6 linked regions of the Homo sapiens genome follow. The protein of the gene in region 3 interacts with the protein of the main gene of each other region in a pairwise test. Each region holds a gene or a part of one and is shown on either strand. Other genes may lie near its edges. The genes, in order: FMR1, MOB4, ELK1, PLCG2, NFE2L2 and EMX1.

Region 1 (3,500 bases), about 100 Mb from region 3:
GGTGGACTTTGGCAAAAATGGTTTGGTTTGCAAGAGCAATGGAGAAAAAACTTATTTAACTTTTCCTACTTATAGAATCAAGGCAGCCTTGCGCTTGTTTAAACTTACTTGGCTATACACGTGTCTGATGTACATAATGTACATTTGTTTTCTAAACTAACTTTGTTCATTCTAAGATTTAAAAACTGATCAAACAAATGTGATAATTCTGTCATAAGTCACAAACTATAAACGATTTCTCCGTTTTTTTCTCTTTTACCTAAAATGTTTTCAGATAAATGTGTAATAAGTAGAGCCAAAGAAGCTTTAAAAAGTCATCTCATCTTACAATCCTTGATCTGGAATAATGCTTAAAGACTATAGAAGAGACGCATTTTTATTTTTTACAGATTTTATTAAGTGAATACAGTACGTTTGATTTGGACATGTTGTTGAACATTAAATTGCAGTTCAGAATACATAGAAATCCTCCCTTTTCTAGAGATTGTGTATGTGTGTAAATTTTTGTGCCTTCTGGTTCATGTACGTTTCCTTCTCTCCCTCAAATCGTTTAGCAGTTTCTTACCCCATTCTCCGTGATGTGCTTATTTCATATTGCATGCCTGTATCAAAACATCTCATATGCCCCATAAATATATATACCTACTATGTACCCACAAAACTAAAAATTAAAAAAAAAGGAAAAAAAAAGGCCTGCAACAAGAGAAGAAGAAAGAAATCAGATACCCTGTAGGTAGCTATCTCCAAAAGTTTTCAATAGTTGACTTAAGAAAACTACTGACTTGTATGTAACTGAAATCAGGAAACCTGTAGTGTAGAGTGGTTCCCCTGAATATGTCTCTTTTGGTAATCTAAGCTGTATTTCAGAAATGTACAGAAAAGGAGCTAAGCTTCTAAATGGATATAGCATATTTTGCATAAATCAAATTTAATATGAATCCATGATTCTTGTATGTGTAAATCTGCCTGCATTTATTTATGTCAGTAGTTGGTAATTATTCATCTTAATTTTTTTTTTTAAATTTCTAGGTGTGCCAAAGAGGCGGCACATAAGGATTTTAAAAAGGCAGTTGGTGCCTTTTCTGTAACTTATGATCCAGAAAATTATCAGCTTGTCATTTTGGTGAGCATTTTTGAGTTGTTTATTTTTAGTTTAATTCATCTGGGGCAATTGCCTTGATAATAATGTTGTTAATTTAAATCATTTAGTCCATCAATGAAGTCACCTCAAAGCGAGCACATATGCTGATTGACATGCACTTTCGGAGTCTGCGCACTAAGTTGTCTCTGATAATGAGAAATGAAGAAGCTAGTAAGCAGCTGGAGGTATGTCACTTTCCCTAGCACTGCTTGTAAGGGTACCTAGGAACGATTAACTGTATCATTCCACAACTTGAATATGGGGAGCTTGTCATTTATTTACTGCTTCTTAACAATTCCTTAGGTTCTATAGTTGGAAAATTGTACAAAGCATAATCATACTAAAGTTTCCATGCCTGAGGTTTCAAAATTAAACAGCAGCTTATGTATATTAAGGGACTTCTGGTACTTTCACTTTTACTAGAAGTTTATCAAAGTTGCTAATAAAATGCGGCAATGCTTCTTCCATATAACATGTTGTCATTAAAAATACTAGAGAATATTTAAATATCTAATCATATTCCTCTCATTATGTATGTTTATCTTTGTTTAAAAGGGTATAGAACTTCTTCATTCTAATTGGTTGTCATTCTTTAAAACTCCTGTCTTCAGATTCCCGCCAGAGGCTATTTCCCTAACTTACTATTTTGTCTCTTAAGGTGCATTTTATCTACTTTTATTAATCCTCCAATAATTTTCATCACCATATATTTGTTTTCATTGATAACTATCAAGTACGTCCATCCATTACTATAGAAACTAAGTGGATCTTAGATGAATGTGCCAGCTCTACTATATTCCTGTCAAATTCCAGAGTTCGTCATCATTATTCATTAGAAGGAAAACACCACACATTTGAAATAGTAAAGAAAAAAAGGAGTTCCAAACTGCATTTTAGGAGAAAAGGTAGTCAAGACTGTGTTCTTATAAAAACCCTGTGAAATTTGCCACCTGTCAACTTGATGTATGATGCTGAACTCTTAGCAGAAGGGGAAAAGTTTAATCTCCTTTTGCCACTTTGTTTTTTCTTAAGGCCATGGAGGTCTGTTTAATTGGTCTTTGCTCTCATTCTTTCTTGATGTCCCTGTGTTCATGATTTTGTGGTTCCTTCAGTGATTCTCTCATAACTTTTAGCCCAGAGCTGCCTCCTTACTTTGATTGTGAGTATTATGAAAATATACTCATATGCCTCTTAAACATCGAATTATTCTTAAATGATCTATCATACTTTTGGCTAACCATTTATCAGTGAATTATCAATGAAAAAGAACGAACCAGATTAATGAACCAGGACTCAAAAAACATGACTTCTTGAAAAGTCCTAGAATTATTTTATAGATTTTATTACTCTAGTCTAAAAAAAATGGGTATTGCACTTTTAAATTATTTATGCTAGTTGTATTCATTCATTCAAATTATCAGGTCTGTTGAACAATGAGAAACTAGTATGCATGCCTATCTTTCTTCACTACTAATATTAAAGAGATTTACATGTTCCTATAAGAAATTCCCATTTTTCAACATGAGCCACTAATACGTTTGGTTTTCATTAATGGCATGCTAGAACTGAACACTAAATTTTGATAATGGTATTTAAAGACAGTGGTTATCCACAAGTTTGGGATGTCAGTGTAACTTAGTTTCGTCATCACTGGATATTTACAAGTGCTCATCATAATTGTGGATCCAGATCACAAGGTCTTACGGACTCTGGTCTCATGTTAGCTTTCAGATGCTTACTAAGTTTTTAATTTTTGACATTTTTTGATTATTCAGTTTAACTACTGTACCAACAATTTTTGATTCCTTAGGTTTTGAGGGAGGTGTCATTTTAATGTCATTTCAACAGAGGAATGTTTAGACCACAGTACCTAATGATGTTATAAAAAATGGCACTGTTTCCAGAAAATATATACTGATACCTTTTAATAAAAATGAAGCGAATAAAATTTTCTATAAAGATGATATTTAAACATTTTTTTACCTAAATAAGTAACATTGAGTTTGTCAGACCGAGTGAGCTGGTTTTTACTGGGGAACATTTGACCTGCTTCTTAGTTATTATATTGCTGATGTCATTGGTTAACTAAGGCAGCCTTGTGATAAGTTTTCAGCAGTTACCTTGGAAAATGTCAACAAGTTCTTTCCTATTAACAAAAACATATAAAATGTCATAGACCTTTAGTAACCTAAAAAGTACTTAGGCTGTGAGAGGTATTTTCTAAAACCTGTTAGTTTTAACCTAAAACTATTAATAATTTATGGACCCCTCATATACAGGGTCAAGATAATTTACATGGCTGGCCTAAATACAGTTGTCGTAATAGTTGATAAAGTGTATTCATCAGACGTCCATTTCT
Region 2 (3,500 bases), on a different chromosome or scaffold from region 3:
TTGTATTTTTAGTAGAGATGGGGTTTCAGCGTGTTAGCCAGGTTGGTCTCGAACTCCTGACCTCAAGTGATCTTCCCGCCTCAGCCTCCCAAAGTGCTGGGATTACAGGCGCAAGCCACCACGCTGGGCTTCATAGTTGGTTTTCAATAAATGTTTGTTGGTTGAATTAGATGAGAATCTTTATTAAGCTGAATTTTTGGTGTCTCTCATAGGCATCTAAAATATGTCACAGTTATGAGAAGGCGAAACATTTCATTCTCAACATCTTTTCTATATATAGTCATCATTGGTGTCCTCTGGGGATTGGCTCCAGGATAACTCCGTACCCCCACCCCATACCAAAATCTGAGGATGCTTAAGTTTCTTAAGTAAAATGGCATAGTGTTTGCATATAACCTATGCACATTCTGTTATATAGTTTAAATCAACTCTAGATTACTTAATAATACCTAATGCAATGCGTGTTCTGTAAATAGTTGTTATACTGTATTTAGGGAATAATGACCAAAAAGAAAGCCGGTACATGTTTAGTACATACGCAACTATCTTAGACCTAACTAGGTACATAGTACATGTCAGCAACAATATAACATTTTCTGTATTTTTTTTCTCCCCTGAAATGAATATTTTCAATTCCTGGTTGATTGAATCTGCAGATTAAACCTGCAGATATGGAGGGCCAACTGTACATGTGTTTTCTAATATTTTAAAAACAACATTCTGTAAACTTCCTTAGTTTTTTTAAAAAGGAAAGAATAGACAGAGTATTGGTAGAAACTTTAGATCATATAGGAAAAATTTTAGAATTGCTCTTTAATAGATAATGTCTAAGAAAAGGAATCCTGGAACCATTTCTAGAAGATTGTTTTATTTCTTGATATTTTCCTTTAATAAAATTAGTTCATTTTCATCCAGATAGGCCAGCTATTTCAAAAAAGATGAAATGTTTAAGACACTTAAAAAGGTGTACTCATTACCTACTGTCCAAACGGGGACATTGCTACTATAGTTGAATCCTTATGGAAGACATTCTCTGTCTTCTACCCTATCATTCCTTTTCTTTTCTGTATACTTTTACTATATATGCATTATATCCATAAGTATGCCTTGCACTTAAACTTTTTTTTTTTTTTTTGAGACAGAATCTCGCTCTGTCTCCCAGGCTGGAGTGCAGTGCTGCACTCTCGGCTCACTGCAAACTCCGCTTCCTGGGTTTGCGCCCACCACCACGCCTGGCTAATTTTTTGTATTTTTTCATAGAGATGGGGTTTCACCGTGTTAGCCAGGATGGTCTCGATCTGCTGACCTCATGATCCGCCTGCCTCGGCCTCCCAAAGTGCTGAGCGTGAGCCACCGCGCCCGGCCTAAACTTTATTCATTTTATATACACTGTGTTTACTTCTAATTTGCTTTTTTTGCTCAAGGTTTTGAAGACTTAATCTTTGTTGATTGTTTTTACAGGTTTATATACAGGTTTATAGATTATTGGTTTACTCTTACCTCCTCCCCACCAAGTTTTACCTCAGAGACATTTGAGCTTCAAAGATGTGTCAGGCATTGTGCTACCCACTGAGGTTACATAGGTAAACTTTTCTGAAAAATCAGTCAAATGGAAAGGTTCTTAATCACTTAGGGGAATATCTGTTAACTGTATTATCTACAGAGAATTCCAGAACCAGGGCAAGATGCTCTATAAAAATATCCCCCTTAAGCTGGGCATGGTGGCTCATGCTTGTAATGCCAGCACTTTGGGAGGCTGAGGCTGGAGGATTGTTTGTGACCAGGAGTTTGAGACCAACCTGGCCAACAAAGTGAGACCTCGTCTCTTAAAAAAAAAAAAAAAAAAAAAAAAGAAGAAGAAATAAAAATATTCCCTTTAACAGAAAGCTGGTTTATTTGATGTTTCCTTCTCTTTTTAAAATTTTTGTGGGTATATAGTAGGTGTATATATTTGTAGGTTACATGAGATATTTTGATACAAGCATGCAGTGTATAATAATCACATCAGGGGGGTAAATGGGGTATCCATCACCATAAACATTTGTATCGGGGAACCTGCCCCGATAGTCACGTAGGTTCTTTTCTATTTTCCCTAAGCATCAGCCAGTTTGAGAAATGAAGGGACAGAGTACAAAAGAGAGAAATTTTAAAGTTGGGCGTCCGGGGGAGACATCACATGTCGGTGGGTACCGTGATGCCCCACAAGCTGCAAAACCGGCAAGTTTTTATTAGGGACTTTCAAAAGGGGAGGGAGTGTACAAATAGGGTGTGGGTCACAAAGATCACGTACTTCACAAGGTAATAGAATATCACAAGGGAAATGGAGGCAGGGCGAGATCACAGGACCACAGGACCAGAGCAAAATTAAAATTGCTAATGAAGTTTCGGGCACCATTGTCATTGATAACATCTTATCAGGAGACAGGGTTTTGAGAGCAACCGGTCTGACCAAAATTTATTAGGTGGGAATTTCCTCTTCCTAATAAGCCTGGGAGCACTATGGGAGACTGGGGTTTATTTCACCCCTACAGTTTCGACCATAGAAGACGGCCATACCCAAGGGGGCCGTCTATAGACCCACCCCCAGGCGTGTATTCTCTTTCCCAGGGATGTTCCTTGCTGAGAAAAAGAATTCAGCGATATTTCTCCCATTTGCTTTTGAAAGAAGAGAAATATGGCTCTGTTCCGCCCGGCTCACCAGTGGTCAGAGTTTAAGGTTATCTCTCTTATTCCCTGAACAATTGCTGTTATCCTGTTCTTTTTCCAAGGTGCCCAGATTTCATATTGTTCAAACACACATGCTCTACAGTTTGTGCAGTTAACACAATTATCACAGGGTCCTGAGGTGACATACCTCCTCCTCAGCTGACAGGATTAAGAGATTAAAGACAGGCCTAGGAAATCACAAGGTATTGATTGGGGAAGTGATAAGTGTCCATGAAATCTTCACAATTTGTGTTTAGAGACTGCAGTAAAGACAGGCATAGGAAATTATAAAAGTATTAATTTGGAGAACTAATAAATGTCCATGAAATCTTCACAATCCACATTCTTCTGCCGTGGTTTCAGCCGGTCCCTCAGTTTGGGGTCCCTGACTTCCTGCAACACATTTGTCCTTTATGTTGCAAAAAATTAGATTCTTTTAGTTTTTTTTAAATGTACAATTAAATTGGTTTTTACTATAGTCACCCTATTGTGCTAGCAAATACTAGGTCTTATTCATTCTTTCTATTTTTTTTGTACCCATGGGTGATTACCTTTTTTTTTTTTTTTTTTTTTTTTTGAGATGGAGTCTTGCTCTGTCACCCAGGCTGGAGTGCAGTGGCGTGATCTTGAGTCACCACAGCTTCCGCCTCCTGGGTTCAAGCAATTCTCCTGCCTCAGCCTCCTGAGTAGCTGGGATTACAGGCGCACGCCACCATGCCCGGCTATTTTTTGTATTTTTAGTAGAGACGGGGTTTCATCATGTTGGCCAGGCTGGTCTCGAACTCCTGACCTCA
Region 3 (3,500 bases):
TTGTGAGTACCAGGCACTCTTCTAGGTGCTGGAATATGGCAAGGAACGAAACAGGGCGAAATATTTGTGCTTGTGGAGCTGACATTTATTAAAAGTTGGGGAGGCTGGGCACGGTGGCTAACACCAGTAATCCTAGCACTTTGGGAGGCTGAGGTGGGTGGATTGCCTGAGCTCAGGAGTTCAAGACCAGCCTGGGCATCACGGTGAAACCCCATCTCTACTAAAATACAAAAAAATTAGCTGGGTGTGGCGGCGTGCGCCTGTAATCCCAGTTACTTGGGAGGCTGAGGCAGGAGAATTGCTTGAACCCAGGAGGCGGAGGTTGCAGTGAGCCAAGATTGCACCATGCACTCCAGCATGGGTGACAGAGCGAGACTCTGTCTCAAAAAAAAAAAAAAAAAAACCCAAGCTGGGGAGACAGACTATGTGAACAAAATAAATAAGTAAAATTAGCATAATAGACAAATGCTGAGAAGAAATAATGAAATAGGGCAGGTAGGAATCGAGTATTGGGGGTGGTTGAAATCTTAGGCATAGGGAAGGTGACTCTTGAATTAGGGCCTCACGGTAGAGACGGAGAGAGCCTTAATGTCTACGGGAAGAGCATACCAGGCAGAAGGAAGTGCCAGTTCAGAGGCCCTGAGGTGGGATGGTGCCTGCCATGTTCAAGGAACATCAAGGCGGCCAGTGTGGCTGGAGCAGAGTGCGGGGAAGGGTAGAAGGTGAGGTCACACAGGTGATGGGAGCCAGATAGTGCAGGTGATACATAGGATAGGATTGCAGGGGCAGGGGGAGAAGGATGACACACTAGCTAATAGCTAATATCTGTGGAGTATCTGCCACACATCAGAGGCACTTTTCTGTTCAAATACCAACCCCCAAAGGATGTTTACCACACGGTGGTGCCTGGAATGCACTACAAAAAGATACATGTGTCAAAGATATTTCTAAGAATGCCAGTTTATATATGAATAAGGATTTTCCTCCTTTTCAAAAGGATATGTTCACAAAACTGAGGTATGTAATATGCTCTATGGAGGCACAGGTATAAAAGCTGTTTCTAAGAGTGCTAGTTGTATATGTGAATAAGGACTGTGTTGTTGCATTGAAAGAATGTGTTCACAAAACTGTGGTGTATAGCTGGGCACAGAGGCTGAGGTGGGAGGATCACTTGAGCCCAGGAGTTCCAGGCCAGCCTGTGCAACATAGTGAGATCCCCGTCTCCGAAAAAAAACCCAAAAAATAACCACTGTGGTGTGCATAATACACTCTCCTAAAGGCACAGGCATAAAAGATGTTTCTAAGAGTGATTTGATTTTCTGGCACCTGGGTAGTGTTATTTCAGTAAATATTCATTGTTAAACACTATGGTGCTTGGAATATACTATACAAAGGCACATGTATAAAAAAGAAGTTCCTAACAATGCTACTTGTAAAAACAAAAAAAAAAGTCAACCCCTCAAGTCTTTTACAGAAGTATTTTACAGAATTGACACAGTTAATCCTCACAGAAGCCTTGGAGGGTAGGTGTACTTTTGAGAATATTTGACTTTGAGAGTAAAATATCCCCATTTTACAGATGAGGAAACAAGCAAAGAGAGGCTGAGTAACTTGCTCAGGGTAACCTTGAGCCAGAATAGCCAGAACAGGGGCAGAGGAACATAAGGCTGAAGACTCAGAAAGAAGAACAGATTTGCAAGGGCAGGCAGGTTATTTGGCACCTTTGATCACGCAGAGGAAGAATGAATTCTTCCTGGAATGCGATGATTGTGTAATTGAGTCCATGAAGTGAGGGAAGAGCTCTCCCTGCGGGGAGAGCAGCCCGTGCTTACCCTCAGAGGTTGGAACTGTCTCGGGAACGGTAGATAGTTCAGGGTGGCTGCCTCAGAGCCTTTGTACACGCCGTTCGCTCCGCCTGAAGGCCCTCCCCCACAGAGGGCAGCCTGGCTTGCTACCTCCCCTCCTTCAGGCCAGGTGTCACTTCCTTGGGGAAGAACTCCTTGTACACCCTGTGTAAAAACAGCATTCCTGTCACTCTCTAGGATCTTACCCTTCTCTGTTTCTCTTCATGGAGAACTGGTGGTGTAAGGCGATTGCTCACTAGAGCCAAACCACTTAGGTTTTGAATTCCGGCTCTGCCAACTTCCAGCTGTGTGACTTGGGGCAGGTTACTTCTCTGTACCTCCATTGCCTCATGTGGAAAATGGGGGAAATGATAATCCCCACCCTTTAACGGTGGTTTGAGGATTCAATGAGTTAAATGATTCAAAGAGTGTGCAGCCCACGGTAAGGATCGTATGCCTGGCTTGCATTTTTAAATTATTAAAATGTATTCATAGCATACCCGTAGATGTCTGACAGGCCTCTGAAACTGACCATCTCCAAAACTGGTGTGACCCCCCTCAAAACTTACTCTCCTGCAAGGCTCCCACCTCAGCTGACCACAATGCTGTCTTTGTGGGTGATTAGGCCACAAACCTAGACTCACCCTGGACCCTTCTCTCACCTCCCCCGGGCATGCTATCTGTCAGCAAGTCCTATTCTGTGTTCAGGCTTTCTCCAGACCCCAGCTACTTCTCGCCAGCCCCACTGCTACCACCATCATCTACCGCAGTGGCTTCTTCAGCCCCAACAGTCTGTTCTTCTCACAACCGCCAGGGGGATCCTGTTGAAATCTCAGTCACAGCCTGTCATCCCTCTGTTCACAACCCTCTTGTGGCTCCTGTCTCACTCAACATCCTGACAGCACCCGAAAAAGCCTGGCTCAGTCTGGCCCCCGTCACTCTGTTCTCCTCTCCCGCTGCCTCCCTCCTCTCCCCCGAACCCATGTCAGCCTCCTCTCCCCATGTCACCTGCCAGGCACTCTCCAGCCTTGGGCCCTTCACACCGGCTGCCGCTTCCACCTGGCTTGCTGCTCTCAGATACTCACGAGCTCAGTTCCTTCACCTCCTTTTGGTCTCTGCCCAGTTGTCCCCTCCTTGGCGACTACTCTCCCCTGACTCTCCATGTAAAAGTAACAGCTCTCCCCTGCTTGATTTTTTTCCCATAACCCTTACCACCATCTGACGCACTCTTGTACATGTTTGCCTTTTTTCTCATCTGCCTTTCCTGCTAAGATGTGAGCTCCTCTGGAGCAGGGATTGTTGTCTGTTGCGTTCTCGACTGTATCCGCAGCACCTGGCCCACAGTATGCACTCACCAAATGCTTGCTAAGTGAAGGAGATGGAAAGAAGTAAACATATCTAAGCAAGGCAGATTACTAGAACTCTTATGAGGGGTCAAGTGGGAGAAATAACAAAATACAAAGCCCTGTGTGCTGTTGAAGCTGGAAGCCCACCGTCACCTTTCACTCAGCTGATAGGTTCTGTTGCAGCTGAAAGAAGAACTGGTAAAATTGCCTGTCTTTGCCACCAGGAGTCACTCTGAACTCTTTGGACTTCTGAAACAAGCCTGCCTGCAAAACAAATTCAGTGAGGTCTCTGGTGACAGGACTCTCTAAT
Region 4 (2,947 bases), on a different chromosome or scaffold from region 3:
TCTGTCAAACAAACAAACAAACAAACAAACAAAAAATCCTTTGGCACCCTTGACTCTAGTTCTCTTTGTTCTAGAAATTAACCTACAGTAATACCTTAGGCGCTTGCCACTTCCCCTAAGTAGAACTGTTTCCTCTAGAAGGACACTTCAATTTAATAGCGAAAATAAATGATGACCACTGACTTTTAAGGAGTACTTATTGTGTTTCCAAGAATGGGCTAGTCCAGCGGCTCTAGACTGGGTCAAGATCCCCCAACAGGGATGCTTGTGGTTGTGCTACAGGCATGTAATGGGGTGCGGGGCGGCCGGGGTTGCCAAGTGTTTCATAATATGTCTAAATCTTCTAAGAAAGAATCATCCAGACAAAAATCCTAATAGTAGCCACCAACGAGAAACTGTGCTGCCTCCCTTACTCACATTATTCTCATTGAATCTTCATGTCAGCCTGCAGAGTAGCTCTTACTCTGTTTTACCATTGAGGAGATTTAACCTCTCTGAGTCTCAACGTCTTACCAGGAACTTGGAGTCTGCCTCTCTGACACTCAGCCCTATACCATCCAGCTATGAATGACTGGCAAATGTACAGAAAGAGAAATGTTACAGAGTTCAGCACGCAGCCCATTTCTCATGGCCCACTGCTGATGGTGAAATCTGTTTTATTTCAGGTTAAGAGAGAAGAGAGTCAGCAACAGCAAGTTTTACTCATAGAAGCTGGGGTATGTGTGTAAGGGTATTGTGTGTGTGCGCATGTGTGTTTGCATGTAGGAGAACGTGCCCTATTCACACTCTGGGAAGACGCTAATCTGTGACATCTTTTCTTCAAGCCTGCCATCAAGGACATTTCTTAAGACCCAACTGGCATGAGTTGGGGTAATTTCCTATTATTTTCATCTTGGACAACTTTCTTAACTTATATTCTTTATAGAGGATTCCCCAAAATGTGCTCCTCATTTTTGGCCTCTCATGTTCCAAACCTCATTGAATAAAAGCAATGAAAACCTTGATCAATTAAGCCTTCTGTTGCACGACCTGTGCAGTGAACAGGATTTCTTTTCTGGCCAAGAAGATTCTACCTCTAATGATCCAGGTAACTGATGTCCATGGAGGATGAGCTGGAAATGTAAGAAACTATTCATGAGATTCTGAAAAGGATTTTAACTCAAAGGCAAATGATTCCATAAGGGCCCAAAGAGAAGCCCTACCCACAGGCAGCCTGCTCAGTTCAATGTACTTTAACTACCACCGGCTGCCTGCTGCAGTCCACAAGAAAATGGCTGAGTGATGGGATCTGTTCATTAAGACAATTTCTAATTAATGGTGACAGCTTGTTTTGTGACTAGAGTTACTGGGATGGAGGGTAGGAATCTTGGGGCCTCTTTGTTTTAAAAAGCCCATCAGAGAGACCAGAGCCGTGCTGCAGGGGCAGGTTCTCACTTGCCCCTGGCTCTGCCAGCTGCTGGGAGGCTCTGGCCCCACTAGTCCCTCATGGCCCTACTGAACTGGCTGGGAGGCTGCTGGAATGGCCCTTGGTCCACAGCTCTCCACAGGCAAGAGGTCAACTGCTGCTTGAAAGAGGTAGACAAAAGTTAGGTTGATGGCGAAATGTCTCTGGGTTACCCAGTCTTCTGGAGCAGCAAGCTGAGCTTTAATGGGCTAAGCATTAGGGTGTTACAGAAAATTTCAAATGCAGCCATCTCCCTTGGGGCAGATCTACCTAGTTCATGACAGTATGTGCGGCTGGCCAGGGCTTTACACCTCTGCATCTTAAGTTGTTAATACATACCAATAATGTAATATGGCTTTTTAAAGGAGAGGAGAGTGCTGGGTTGGGAAGGGAGGTGGTTGGTAGAGTCACAACTTCTCAATGAGTGAATTTACAGCTGATGGGAAAAGGAGTGTAACTGTGAAAAACGATGGCTGTGGTGGGGAAGAACAAACCAGCAGTAAGCCTGATGTTTGATGTGGATGGAACTGGCCCCTAGAAACCCATCTGACCCTCCTCTTGTTACCCGAAATGCTGGGCTTAGTATGCATGTACTGCTGAAAAGCAGGGCAGAACAAATCAGGCTCTGACCAGAAGATCCTTCTGGTCCCTTCACTCTACAAAAACTTACTGATCACCTCCACATGCCAAATACAGTGCCAAGATTTGGGGGTGTGGATGTTTAAACAAAAAGCTGTGGGTCTCATCAATCATCTCCATCCACAAGCTCCTAAAAGAAAGCCATTTACCTCGCTTGAAGCCAGGAACACAGGGAACAGCAGTCTGGCCAAGGAAGGGCTGTTATCTGGTGCTATCACTCCAGTTACTCCTCCAACTGGGAGCTGCTATTTTATTTGGCAGTCAGCAACTGAAGAAAGAACATTCCTCTTAGTGGCAGATGTTCAAAGCAACTTTCAAGAAAGGCTAGGTGAGAAAGGCACTGGGATGAGTGCTGCAGGCACTCTGTAGCCAGGGCCCCATTAGCCTTTGGCCAGGTAGCCACCAGAACCTATTTATTGCACCTGGCATCTCCCCCAACCCCTCTCAGCTCTGTTAGGACTTCCACACAGCAGAGCTCAGGTGTTGCTGTCATTACCTCCTTTCAGCTCCTCACTTCATTCTACTTTAAAGCCACAGTGCTAAGGCCTGCATCCCCTTTCTGCCCAAATGGGTTTTTTGCTACCATATCAAAGAACCTGACATATGGCGGCATAGGAAGCAGAAGCTAAGCCTCTCTCCAGCTGCTGCTGTGTAAAATCCATGCGTGGCCAAAGAGAAGTCAGGGGATTATGACATAAATGGTGCTGGGAAGAACCCTCTGCCTAAAACTGTCTCCTTCTCCTGGTGCTACAACCGGAATCCACCATGAGAGAGTACTTTCTTCGGTTCTTTCCTCCTGTCCTTGACAGAGTAACACGTTAATCTGGTTCTTGGTGGTGTTAGGGACTGATTCTCTCAGGAAAG
Region 5 (3,500 bases), on a different chromosome or scaffold from region 3:
GCTACTTGATCCTTACAGGATGTTTCTATACTTTACAAAACTCTTTGGTGTAACTTAAGTCTTCCCAATCCTCACAATAACACTGTTAAGATCAATAGGTTGGGTACTGAACTCAGGTTAGGTACTGAACTCATCAGGAGGCTGAGGTTGGAAAGTAGATTTGACAAGGTTAAGTAAAAGAAAGGCAAAGCTGGAACTCAAATCCAGATATTTTAATTCCTTGCTCAGTGTTTCCTTAAACCTGCCATAACTTTCCCAAGAACTGAGTACTCTGTACCTGGGAGTAGTTGGCAGATCCACTGGTTTCTGACTGGATGTGCTGGGCTGGCTGAATTGGGAGAAATTCACCTGTCTCTTCATCTAGTTGTAACTGAGCGAAAAAGGCTTTCTCTTGCTCCTTTTGGAGTTGTTCTTGTCTTTCCTTTTCAAGTTTTTTCTGTTTTTCCAGCTCATACTCTTTCCGTCGCTGACTGAAGTCAAATACTTCTCGACTTACTCCAAGATCTATATCTTGCCTCCAAAGTATGTCAATCAAATCCATGTCCTATGTTTAAGACAAAAAAAGGAAGGAGAGAGCTCATGTTTTTTAAATGACAGATACCACATAAATTAATTCACATTATGCCACTGTTGATGGTGGGAAGTGGGGAGATTACAAATACAATCTAAATGAGAACACAGATCCAATGTTCTAGAAGAGCACAGTTAATTCCATTCAATGAATCTATTCATTAAAGACAACAAACAACCTACAAACACATAGCCATCCATTCTAATCACTTGGATCATTAATGATAGGGTGATGGTAGAGGTCACTAAAGGGCAAAGTCACAAATGGTTTGAATGAGAAGAAATCCCACCCTTGTTTAATGGAATATAGAAATTAGAGCAAGCACTCTAAGCCACTGGCTTATATAAGAGAAGTGGGGTCTGGAAAACATTACTGAATACATGGAGTTTTCTTTAAACTTTGCTCAGCAAATATCCAGTTTATAGAGGGATAACTCTCAAGTTAAAGTGTCAATCTAGCAGTTGTGAAATATCACCATTCTTTCCATCTTTCCTACACTAGATTATCTTCTCCCCATCACTGCTTGCTACTCTTATCTCTGTGGCTTACCTATATGCCTGTAATCCCAGCACTTTGGGAGGCCAAGGTGGGTGGATCACCTGAGGTCTGGAGTTCGAGATCAGCCTGGCCAACATGGTGAAACCACGTCTCTACTAAAAATACAAAAATCAGCCGGGTGTGGTGGTACGTGCCTGTAATCCCAGCTACTCAGGAGGCTGAGGCAGGAGAATCGGCTTGAACCTGGGAGGCAGAGGTTGCAGTCAGCTGAGATCGCACCACTGCACTCCAGCCTGGGCAACAGAGCAAGACTCCATCTCAAAAAAAAATAAAATAAAAGCAGACAGGGACAGGTGCGGTGGCTCACGCCTACAAGCCCAGCACTTTGGGAGGCTGAGGCAGGTGGATTGCTTGAGCCCAGGAGTTCGCGACCAGCCTGGGCAACATGGAGAGACCCTGTTTCTACCAAAACAAAAACAAACAACAACAACAACAACTGGTGTGGTGGCGCACACCTGTGGTCCCAGCTACTCAGGAGGCTGAGGTAGGAGGATCACTTCAGTCCAGGAGGTCATGGCAGCAGTGAGCTATGATCGTGTCACTGCACTCCAGCCCGGGCAACAAAGTGAGACCCTGTCTCATAAATAAATAAATAAATAAATAAAACTATGGCTCCAGGGAAGGATTAAAGGTATTAAGTTTTAAGACATAGGAAGAATCTTACAAAGAGGGAATGGTTTTGATGAGGAGAGGCTGAGCTTGGTGACTCAGGCCTGTAATCCCAGGAGTTTGGGAGGCCAAGGCAGGAGGATTGCTGGAGCACAGGAGTTACTAGCCTGGGCACCATAGTGACACCTGTTTCTACCCAAAATCAAAACAAATTAGTTGCACGTGGTGATACGAGCCTGTAGTCCCAACTATTAGGGAGACTGAAGTGAGAGGATTGCTTGAGCCCAGGAAGTCAAGGCCATGGTGAGCTGTGATTGTACCACTGCACTCCAGCTTGGGTGACAAGACCCTGTTTCACACACACAAAAAGATACATGGGGAGAGAATTTATATGACTAGGCTAGGCATAGGAACCACATCCAGATTTTCCTAACCAAAAATGTGTCAATAGCAGTTTTTCTGATTTGTAATTTTAGTCTTTGGAAAAATCTAAATAGGTAGGAAATCTAAATCTGTTTCCATTCCACAAATCACCTATAGGGGAAATAATTAATTTGAGAATGGAAAAAAATCAAGATGGGGGAACGGGAGTTGGGACTTGAAGGCCAGTGGGTACAGTGTAGACACGTCACACTTTGCATTTCATTCTGCTGACAGCTGGCAACGCCAGACTTAGAGTTCTATTACTTTCAGCTTCCCAAGGACGCAAATAACATGGTGGTTGTTTCAGTGAGGAGTCAGGCTATTTTTATCCAACAGAGGAGCAGGCCACCCAGCCTGGAGGCAGCGCAGCTAGCTAGATGGCACAGGCCACCTGTGTCCATGATTGAAGGTTGGCGTTGGAATCTTAAATGCTATGAAACCCTGCTCATGGGGCTCATTATTCTAGCCTTGAACAATATATATTGTAAAGCACACAAAGTAGGCATAGTTAAAGTAGCACTTGTAGTTAGGTATACCTCACTAGGACATACCTAATTATCTTTAAGCCAGTATCTATTAAGGGCTTCCTATATGCTATGCACTGTTCTAAGTACTTTACATATAGAAACTATTCCTCAAAACAGCCTTATACAGAGAAAACATTCCTGTTATACAGTATAAGAATACTGAGGTTAAGAAAAAAGATACTACCAGAAAGTGGCTGAACAAAGACACATACCCAGGCAGCTTCAGTCGGGTTCATGCTTTATTAGCCATGAGCCTACACTATTATAAAATGGCATGGCATTTGCTGCAAATAACCTATGCATATCCCTTTATATACTTTAACTCATCCCTGGATTACTTACAATACCTAGTAAAGTGTAAATGCTGTGTAAATAGTTGTTATACTGTATTTTATGTGTGTATTGTTATTTTTTCGGGTTTTTTTTCCACTTTTTTCCTTTTGAAATTTTATTATTTATTTACTCATTTTGAGATAGGGTCTCACTCTGTCACCCAGGCTGGAGTGTGGTGATGCAATCATGGCTCACTGCAGCCTTCACCTGGGCTCAAGTGATCCTCCCACCTCAGCCTCCCAAGTAGCTGGGACTACAGGCACATGCCACCAAGCCCAGCTAATTACTTTTTGTAGAGATGGCGTCTTGCCATTTTGCCCAGGCTGGTCTTGAATTCCCGGGCTCCATTGATTTTCCTGCCTCAGCTTCCCAAAGTGCTAGGATTACAGGCATGAACCACTCCACTGTGCTTGGCCTTTTTCCAAATATTTTTGAACCAATCTGCCATTGGTTGCATCATGGAACCAGAGGCTGCATGG
Region 6 (3,500 bases), on a different chromosome or scaffold from region 3:
CGGCCTGCCCCATCTCTTGGCTTAACAGAGGGATCTGGAGAGCTGTTATTCCCCGCGTTCCCCCGCGGAGTGGCTCTCGAGTGCGGGGAGGTGTTGCGGAGGGGAGTGGACTTAGGGAAGGGGCGGCAAAAGGGCAAAGGGAGAAATGGCGTGTGTGTGCGTGTCAAGGAATGGAGAGGGCAGGGCGCTTGGGAGCAGGGCGCGAGGCCAGGCTCTGTTGGGCCCCGGCTCACGGCGCCCCTTCTCTCTGTCTGTACCTGCGTGTGTTGCCGTCGGCGGCGGGGCCGCAGCCAGCGACGTGCCCCAGGACGGGCTGCTTCTGCACGGCCCCTTCGCACGCAAGCCCAAGCGGATCCGCACGGCCTTCTCGCCCTCGCAGCTGCTGCGGCTGGAGCGCGCCTTCGAGAAGAACCACTACGTGGTGGGCGCCGAGCGGAAGCAGCTGGCCGGCAGTCTCAGCCTCTCCGAGACGCAGGTAATCACCCCCGGTCGCGGCCTGCCCTGCGCCCGGAGCCCGGGTGGAGGTGAGGGTGCGCGGGTGCAGGAGAGGCCCTGAGCCCGCCCCAGCCCAGCCCTGCTGGGTTCCAAAAGGCCCCCATTCCCCGCGGCGCTGCGGTCAAGCCCGTCTTTAGAGCCTCTTCCTCGAGACTGCGTGCAGCCTGCTGAGCCCGCAGGACTTTTGTCAAGCGCTAAAGACCTAGCAGGAGGCAGAGTAAATGCAAACTGTATCCCGAGCCCGGCTCCCAAAGCTCCTCACGGGGGGACCAGGTTCCCTGGAGGAAGCGGGTCGCCTCGGGAGCGGGCAGCGCAGGCAGCACCGAGGCCACTGGAGCTGGCTCCAGCCCTGGCATTCCTGCAGCCCTTTTCCCGCCACTGTGTCGGGGCGCTCATAGTCCTGCGGGGAGCCGGTCCGCACTGGCTTTGCTGCTGTTCCTGGGCAAAACTGGCGGGGCCTTGGCTGCCCACCAGCCAGGAGCGTCTGGGGAGAAAGCCCAGGTGTCCTCAGACTACCAACAGAGGGGCTTAACCAGGGAGGGGCCAGCCCCTGCTTGGGGCCCGAGGGTTGCTCTGATCCGGCCCAGGCCGGCTGATAGGGCTGTGGAAGCCACGGTGTGCGCGCGCAGAGCATCTGAGTGGCCTGGGCCTGGTGGGAAATAGACCCCGGGTACTCAGGTGCTTCTCTGAATCACTGGAAAGGCTGTCGAATGGGAGAAGGAATAAACTCCAACGGCGCCTGGGCTTGAACTGAGTGAAATTAACAATTACCGTGTAGTGTTTTTGTAACTGATCGTTAATTTAAGGGAAAAAATTAAAGAATTAGATGAAAGTTATAGGGAGGTGGATTTGGGTTCATTGTAAGTAGACTTTGCCATAAATAAATGCTGCCTGGGATCACTGCATAAGCTCTTGGTCCACCCAGGTCCGACGTGTTGGAGTGGGGCTCAGCGACCCTCAGCCTAGCTGCTGCCCTGGAGGTGGATTTCAGTCTCTGCGTGCCGGCCGGCTCCCAGAGTTGCGAGAGGCCGGCTCCGCGGTCTCCCAGCTACCTCCCGGCTGACTTTTCACCTTCCGCTCCCCTTTCCTCCTAGTCTCGACCCTACTACACCACCGTCCCCTCCCAAGTCCCGGGCAGTGAGAAGATGCCCGGCATGGGGGGCAGCCGGAGCCTCCCTTTAGCAGCCAGAGTAGGAAGGGGGCTTAGTGAGGGAGCCCAGACCCAAACTTCATCCGCAGCTTTCTTCGGCGGACCTTACCCTCTCCTCCTTCAGTGGCATTTTGGCATCTATTGTCGTCATATCTGTCTGCTGCCCCACTTAATCTACAAATCGCTCACGGGTCGGAGGCAGGACCCGTGCGTTTTCAGATGTACTAGCTGGGCTGTTCTAACTGCAGGGAAAAAGCTTACAAAACAAGAGTTAATTTTAAAAACGTTTCAAAGAAAGATGTGTTTTTAAAAATAAGTTAATAAAATAACACTCCCTTTTCCCTCCTGGCAGTGTTTTAAAATTATTGTTTGAAACAAGGTGTCAGTTTAAGAATGGTGTTTATAATTAACTTCATTTAAACAGTAATATTTATTAAATTTTAATTGCAGAACTGTAAGAAAACAAAAATGGTTTTTAATCCTACCACCCACAGATTAACACTTGTTGAAATAATGTCATTGTTTTTAAACTTTCAATTTTTTAGCTCAGTGAGAGCATTTTTAATTAACTCTCTTTCAAACTGAACCTAGCTGCCTGTCAATATTTGCTCCTAACAATGCCAGTTAGTAAACGGACTGATTGTTTCTTTCATTTTTATTATGAGACATTTCAAACATATATTTAAAACAAAACCAGATAGAATAACATAAACGTATCCTGCTTCATTAACTATCAAAACTCAGGGCTAATCTTCTTCCCGTCTGTAAATGAGCTGCTTTTTGCATATGGTACAACAAAAAGAATGAGGGGAGGTTTGAGCCTGGGGAACCTGCCGTGGCAGCCTGTCCTTCCAGGTGAAGACCCTGAGATGGAGAGATGGTTTGGACAGAGCTTCCCAGGTGGGCAAACACGATTTTAAATACCTGCCTCCCTGCTAACTTACTGTGTAACCCTGGGCAAGTCACTTAACCTCTCTGAGCTCTGGTTTCCTCATTGAGAAAATAGTTGTTTAATGATTAAAGGTACCTCATATGAGCTCAAATAATATTAATCCCCATCCCTAGTCCCTTCCCTTTAAGGTAGTATGTCAGATTAGTAGCATAAGAAGATCCAAACCTGTGTGTCCTCTTAGTCCAGCGTTCTTCCTCCCTTATGCAGTTTCCGTCATCAACATTGCCTTTCTGTTGCCCTCATAACTTATCATACGGAGCCAGGCTATATAATTAGCTACTTCTCTATCCGCCTCTTGGTACTTACCAGGCAAGCTTACCTGTCATTTCCAGCTATCAGCTATTTGTCAAGCATCAGTCACCCCCAACAGCCCCCCTGCCATGCATTTCTACTGTTAATATCTGTATCTGTCTCCAGAGCTCTCTAATCTGTCCCACCCCGTAGCTGTTTTACATCTAGCCATATACTTCTGTCTGCTCTCATTAAACTGCCTCCCCAAAACTGGCTAATTTATATTTCCGATTTTCTATTAGTTATATGTTCTTCCTAACAATAAGAACTATTTACCCATTTGTTCATTATCTTTGTCATCTATTTTACCTTCTGTGTTTCCACCATTCATCTCAAACTTCATCTCCATAGAGCTATTTCGCAACTGACAAACAGTATATTCATATGTCTGGTAATGGTTATCTATTATTGGCTCTGGCTTTGTCTTCTCTCTGGGTCTGGGCCTCAGTTTCTGTATCTGTGAGATTGAATGACACAAATTCCAGGGTTTTTTCTAGTGCTGAGTTTCTGTGACTCCTCTACATTCTACTTCTCTGTGTTTCTGTATACTACCTCCTCCACATTCTCAGAGCTCACCACACAACCCCTGCCTATCATGATATGCATCAAACT

Evidence for each region.
Region 1: the proteins of ELK1 (region 3) and FMR1 interact in binary tests that used the Homo sapiens proteins (3 or more experiments, as listed by UniProt).
Region 2: the proteins of ELK1 (region 3) and MOB4 interact in a two-hybrid assay, tested with the Homo sapiens proteins (one large-scale study listed by IntAct).
Region 4: the proteins of ELK1 (region 3) and PLCG2 interact in a two-hybrid assay, tested with the Homo sapiens proteins (one large-scale study listed by BioGRID and IntAct).
Region 5: the proteins of ELK1 (region 3) and NFE2L2 interact in binary tests that used the Homo sapiens proteins (3 or more experiments, as listed by UniProt).
Region 6: the proteins of ELK1 (region 3) and EMX1 interact in a two-hybrid assay, tested with the Homo sapiens proteins (one large-scale study listed by BioGRID and IntAct).

The regions. Positions count from the first base shown.
Region 1 is NC_000023.11:147,928,919-147,932,418, forward strand, and holds part of FMR1 (fragile X messenger ribonucleoprotein 1), read left to right. Parts: intron 1-1,029; coding exon 1,030-1,123; intron 1,124-1,209; coding exon 1,210-1,326; intron 1,327-3,500.
Region 2 is NC_000002.12:197,519,066-197,522,565, forward strand, and holds part of MOB4 (MOB-like protein phocein), read left to right. Parts: intron 1-3,500.
Region 3 is NC_000023.11:47,644,064-47,647,563, reverse strand, and holds part of ELK1 (ETS domain-containing protein Elk-1), read left to right. Parts: intron 1-3,500. UniProt on the Homo sapiens protein: Transcription factor that binds to purine-rich DNA sequences. Forms a ternary complex with SRF and the ETS and SRF motifs of the serum response element (SRE) on the promoter region of immediate early genes such as FOS and IER2.
Region 4 is NC_000016.10:81,957,291-81,960,237, forward strand, and holds part of PLCG2 (1-phosphatidylinositol 4,5-bisphosphate phosphodiesterase gamma-2), read left to right. Parts: intron 1-665; coding exon 666-708; 3' UTR 709-2,947. UniProt on the Homo sapiens protein: The production of the second messenger molecules diacylglycerol (DAG) and inositol 1,4,5-trisphosphate (IP3) is mediated by activated phosphatidylinositol-specific phospholipase C enzymes. It is a crucial enzyme in transmembrane signaling.
Region 5 is NC_000002.12:177,233,728-177,237,227, forward strand, and holds part of NFE2L2 (nuclear factor erythroid 2-related factor 2), read right to left. Parts: intron 545-3,500; coding exon 278-544; intron 1-277.
Region 6 is NC_000002.12:72,924,019-72,927,518, forward strand, and holds part of EMX1 (homeobox protein EMX1), read left to right. Parts: intron 1-290; coding exon 291-475; intron 476-3,500. UniProt on the Homo sapiens protein: Transcription factor, which in cooperation with EMX2, acts to generate the boundary between the roof and archipallium in the developing brain. May function in combinations with OTX1/2 to specify cell fates in the developing central nervous system.